Linked DNA regions of Homo sapiens: region 1 is linked to region 2. A link means that fine-mapping ties the variant in region 2 to the expression of a gene that starts in the linked region. Tissue or cell type: whole blood. Region 2 holds a variant in brackets; the other region holds the start of a gene. All regions are shown on one strand. Distances are from middle to middle.

What was found. PIP is the estimated chance that this variant, and not a neighbour inherited with it, causes the effect.
Region 1: SPOUT1 starts here. The variant in region 2 is fine-mapped to the expression of SPOUT1 in whole blood (TOPMed, PIP 0.98).

Annotation. Positions count from the first base shown.
Region 1 is chr9:128,828,534-128,831,033 of GRCh38, reverse strand. SPOUT1 (SPOUT domain containing methyltransferase 1) reads left to right here and starts at 1,240. Exons shown (of 12, transcript NM_016390.4): 1 at 1,240-1,289; 2 at 1,879-1,924; 3 at 2,174-2,299. The coding sequence starts at 1,254. It overlaps KYAT1-SPOUT1 (KYAT1-SPOUT1 readthrough), which reads left to right. Exons shown (of 25, transcript NR_182311.1): 14 at 1,029-1,289; 15 at 1,879-1,924; 16 at 2,174-2,299. RefSeq lists silencers at 289-512, 1,329-1,508 and enhancers at 989-1,048, 1,846-2,500.
Region 2 is chr9:128,982,527-128,985,281 of GRCh38, reverse strand. It overlaps NUP188 (nucleoporin 188), which reads right to left. Exons shown (of 44, transcript NM_015354.3): 16 at 2,581-2,733; 17 at 2,254-2,380; 18 at 1,902-1,989; 19 at 1,732-1,808; 20 at 268-382. Among named protein-coding and RNA genes, the nearest start is that of NUP188, 36 kb to the right of the region's middle. The variant C/T (reference allele first, on the strand shown) is at 1,505.

The DNA.
Region 1 (2,500 bases), 150 kb after region 2:
AAAGAAAAAAAAAAATTAGTCGGGCATGGTGGCTCACACTTGTAGTCCCAACTAATATAGTCTGTTAATTAAAAGAGAACGAGGCCGGGCGTGGTGGCTCATGCCTGTAATCCCAGCATTTTGGGAAGCCGAGGTGGGCGGATCACCTGAGGTCAAGAGTTCGAGACCAGCCTGACCAACATAGAGAAACTCCATCTCTACTAAAAATACAAAATCAGCCAGGCGTGGTGGTGCATGCCTGTAATCCCAGCTACTCGGGAGGCTAAGGCAGGAGAATCGCTTGAACCCAGGAGTTGGAGGTTCCTGTGAGCTGAGATCGAGCCATTGCACTCCAGCCTGGGCAAGAAAAGCGAAACTCTGTCTCAAAAAAAAAAAAAAAAAAAAAAAAAAAAAAAAAAAAAGGCCGGGTGCAGTGGGTCACGCCTGTAATCCCAGCCCTTTGGGAGGCCGAGGCTGGAGGATCACTTATGGTCAGGAGTTCAACCAGGCTGGCCAACACGGGGCCAACATCAACACCATCTCTACTAAAAACACACACAAAAAAATTTGCTGGGCATGGTGGCACGCTCCTGTAATCCCAGCTTCTTGAAAGGCTGAGGCAGGAGAATTGCTTGAACCCAGGAGGTGGAGGTTGCAGTGAGCCGAGATCGCGCCATTGCACTCCAGCCTGGGCAATGAATCGAGACTCTGTCTCAAAAAAAAGAAAGAGTACGTGAACGAATCTATAAGAAACCTGGAGTAAATTATCTCATTTTCAGCTCTGAATCACACTACAGCTCAAGGCCCCAGGGTCCCCATGTATAAAGCCTTCCAGGAGCTAGGCGTGGTGCTGCGCACCTGTGGTTCCAGCTACTCGGGAGGCTAAGGTGGGAGGATCCCTTGAGCCCAGGAGCTCAAGCCTGCAGTGAGCTAGAATTGCTCCACTGCACTCCAGCCTCGGCAACATAGCGAGACCCTGTCTCAAAAAAAATTATTTTTAAACAAGTGAACTACTCAGAGGTCTGAGTGTTGTATTTGTCCCAACTCAGAGGGGGGCTCCGAGCCATCCAAAATTCAGCACAGTACCCGCGATGCCGCCTATTTGGACACCTACTCTGCCCAACCTACTCCAGCCCGCGTACCCCTGCAGCCCGTCGGGCGCCCAGGCCACGCCCCTGGGCGATATTGGCTCTCCGATTGGACAGCTTAATGGAGGTGTGGCCGGAAGAGGCGAGTCTCATTGGCAGAGGCGGGACCGACGGTGTGTGCGGAACATGGCGGAGCGCGGCAGGAAGCGGCCGTGCGGCCCGGTAAGTGCGGGCGGCGGGACCCCGTGCAGGGCAGCATGGTGGAGGCGTGAGAACCAGTGGCGTGGGGGCCTTCGCCGGGGCCGGGCCGCGCCTCCTGCTGCCTGCTTCCCGCTGATCCCAGGCCGGAAGCCCCCGAAGGTGCCGCGTGAGCCTCAGCAGGATGGGAACAGCGCCCGTGTCCTCTCCGGAACCCCCTGCGGCTCCCTGGCCCCCGCTGGATTACGGAGGCGGGACCCTGCTCGCCTCCGGATGCTGAATCCGGAGCCCTTTCGTGGCTTCTGGAGCCCTTTTCTGACTTCCAGGGCGACTGTGGGCAGTGCTGTACCCTGAGCCTCAGTTTTCTCTTCTGTTTTGTGGGAACTCATTCGACAGTTTCTTGAGTGCTTTCTGTGTGCCAGGCTGGGTCCCAGGCGCTGGGGATACAGCGGGTCCCTGCCCTCCTGCCGCTTTCTGGGGCAGCAGTTCGCAGAGGTTCCTTGGCTTCCTTGCCGCCCCGTGTGGAGGGGCTGGCTATGGTGCAGCAAACGGACCCCCTCCAGGTGTGACCATCAGCCTCACACTCATAATCCTCCTACCACTCCTTCTCCAGGGTGAACACGGCCAAAGGATTGAGTGGCGAAAATGGAAGCAACAGAGTAAGTAAGGGTGGGTAAGAGTATCTTCCCATAGGCCACTCCACCAGTGCTCAGTCAAACCCTGGAGAAAGACACCAACTTTGTTCCCTCTGGGTCCTGCAGCACACAAAGTGGGGAGGCAGGGGCCGGGAGCCCTGGGGAGGCTCCCTTGCTGCCCTCTGGCTGCTCACCCAGCAGCTCTCCAGAGTCCAGGCTGACCCAATGAGTGGGAACTGTCTCCTTGGCCAATTAGGATGTTCTTTTATCCAGAGAAAGAGGAGAAAAAAAAATGGAAGGATCTCAAGCTGATGAAAAAACTGGAGCGGCAGCGGGCACAGGAGGAACAGGCAAAGCGCCTGGAAGAGGAGGAGGCAGCGGCAGAGAAGGAGGACCGCGGTGAGCTGGGGTCTTGGGGAGGGCCACAGGTTGTGGCCCACGGTAGTTGTCCTGCAGGCAGAGCAGAGATGTCTTATCTGAAAGGGCCTTTACAGACCAGTAGGTCCAAACATCTTGTCCTGATGGAGAAACTGAGGCCCAGAGAAGGGAGGGAGCCAGCAAACTGAGTTCTGACCTCCTGCTTAGGTAAATTTCAAGCCT
Region 2 (2,755 bases):
CAATACCCTTTTGGCCTCTTCCATTCTACTTCATAAACCTTCCAATCATTAAATAAATTCACATAATTAAGCACCTAATAGAGTACATAACTGGCACATACTAGGTACTCAATACATAGAAACTGTTGTCACTGTAACTTCAAGATGACTATTCTGCCTACAGACAAGAAGATTACAGCACCAGGGGCCAGGGAAACTATTTCAGAGTCATCTGACAAGACTGGACCTTTTCTTTTTCTGCCCTTTGTGAACAAAATCAGACTGTACCTTGACAAGGGTGGTGATCAAGCGCAGAAAGGCAATAGTAACCCCATACTCGCCCTGAGGCTGTTCACTGTTCATCAAGAGGTTTCCGTACCCTCCAGCATTCATCCCTTCCGCACTGGAAAAAGAAGTAGAGGGAAAAAAAATGATAGGGAAATTTCAAGGTTTCAAGAAACTAATCATAGAGCATTCTTGTTATAGTCTAGATGACTTGAATATAAAATAGAAAAGCTCTCCAGTGGAAATAATCCAATCAAGACAGTTCTGTACCCAGGGTAAACATTAAGAACATGTTTTATTGATGTAAAACCTAGATTGAAAGTAAAAAAATCAAAGGAACATCAGGGAAACATTTTTGTCAAGAGACAGCAAGGCGAGAATGCTCAGGTAGTAAGATGGAGCCTGTGTACTGGTAAGTGGTCTACTGGCTGAGCTCGAGAACCCATGAAATGAGAAAAAGTACAGAGTGATTGTGGCTTAATAACGGGACACCAAGTCCCTGAATCTAGAAACCTCTGGATTTTCTGGGCTGGAAAGTAAATGCTCACATACTAACGTGATTGATGTTGGATAAGAAATCTCTCTTGCTCTCGGCCGGGCACCATGGCTCATGCCTGTAATCCCAGCACTTTGGGAGGCCAAGGCAGGCGGATCAGTTGAGGTCAGGAGTTCGAGACCAGCCTGGCCAACACGGTGAAACACTATCTCTACCAAAAATGCAAAATTACCGGGGCGTGGTGGTGAATGCCTGTAATCCCAGCTACTTGGGAGGCTGAGGCAGGAGAATCACTTGAACCTGGGAGGCGGAGGTTGTGGTGAGCCAAGATCACGCCATTGCACTCCAGCCGGGGCAACAAGAGCGCAACTCCATCTCAAAAAAAAAAAAAAAAAAATCAGGCCAGGCGCGGTGGCTCACGCCTATAATCCCAGCACTTTGAGAGGCTAAGGCGGGCAGATCACTTGAGACCAGGAGTTCCAGACGAGTCAGACCAACATGGTAAGACCTCGTCTCTATTAAAAATACAAAAAATTAGCCGGGCGTGGTGCCGCACATCTGTAATCCTGGCTACCGGGGAGGCTGAGGTGGGAGAATTGCTTGAACCCGGGAGGCAGAGGCTGCAGTGAGCTTAGATCGTGCCACTGCACTCTGGCCTCGGTAACAGAGCGAAACTCCATCTCAAAAAATAAAAAAAGTAAATAAATACATAAATAATACAAAAATTAGCTGGGCGTGGTGGCT[C/T]GAGCCTATAATCCCAGCTACTCGGGAGGCTGAAACACAACAACTGCTTGAACATGGGAGGCGGAGGCTGCACCACTGCACTCCAGCCTGGGCAACAGAGTGAGACTCCATCTCAAAAAAATAAACAAACAAATACATAAAAATAAAATTAATAAACCTAGGCTAGATCTGAGACATATGTGGTTCTCACTAGGGAATATGGCCCACCACCCTAGGACTTGGCTCACCTAATCATCTGACTCAGGCTGGAGACAGGATGGGCCACAAATGGTAAAAAACCTGTGTGACGAAGATCAGTCCAGACCTGAGAAGGAAAAGGAAGAGTTAAATGCCCACATATCTTCAGGTATGTGCCAAGTGCTACATTTTTGGCTCTTGGGAAGATCTGGCATCTCACCTTTGCTGGATTGCGGGCAGCCAAAACAGTTAAGCAGTTGACACAAGAAGCAATGACATCCACAGGTGGGGAGATCACTGTCGTTAACCTGGTTGGAGAACAATACACTATACTCAATAAAGCAAATAATACAACTGGTTCCCTCACAAACATTTTTCCACTTCTCTCTCCCCAGTCTCTCCCCTCAGCAGACATATAAAAACAGGAAAACCCTCACAGATATAAAAACAGGAAAACCAAGGAATATGCGCGAACTTTAACCCAGTGGGTATGTGTCCAGGTTCCTGCAAACTGAGGGCACAAGTGCTGAGATCTCTACTGGGCAGCTGAGGGTCAGCCAAGACAGACTCACCGCTGCAGCAGCATGTAGATGCGAGATGTGATGGGCAGGAGACAGTCTGCTATCGACAGGTCTGTACTGATGACCTTATGGACGAGATCAATGATGGGTTTGACTCGCTGGCAGTGCTGAATCACATCTGAGAAGAAAGACAGCCTGTGACCTCACGGCAAACAACCCCTTTAAGATCACTGAACAGTCTCTGAGACCCAGATACACAAATCAGACAAATCACAATCTTGATGGTTCTAAATTTTATGTAGATATTCTATTTTCTAAATCCTCCAAGCATATCCACTTTTCCTCCTCGTAGGTGATGTTTCCGAAAGCTGACCTTACCTGCAGTTGAAACAACATGAAGCAACATTTCAATCTCGCAGGTAAAGAGGGTCCAGCTGCTATAGGAGTATTCCCAGCGTACCAGGTATGCCCTATCATCCAACATTACTTGGCCCACAGTGCCTTGAGGTATGCGAAGGTTGGTTTGACCCCCTGAGAGAGAAAGATAAATTAG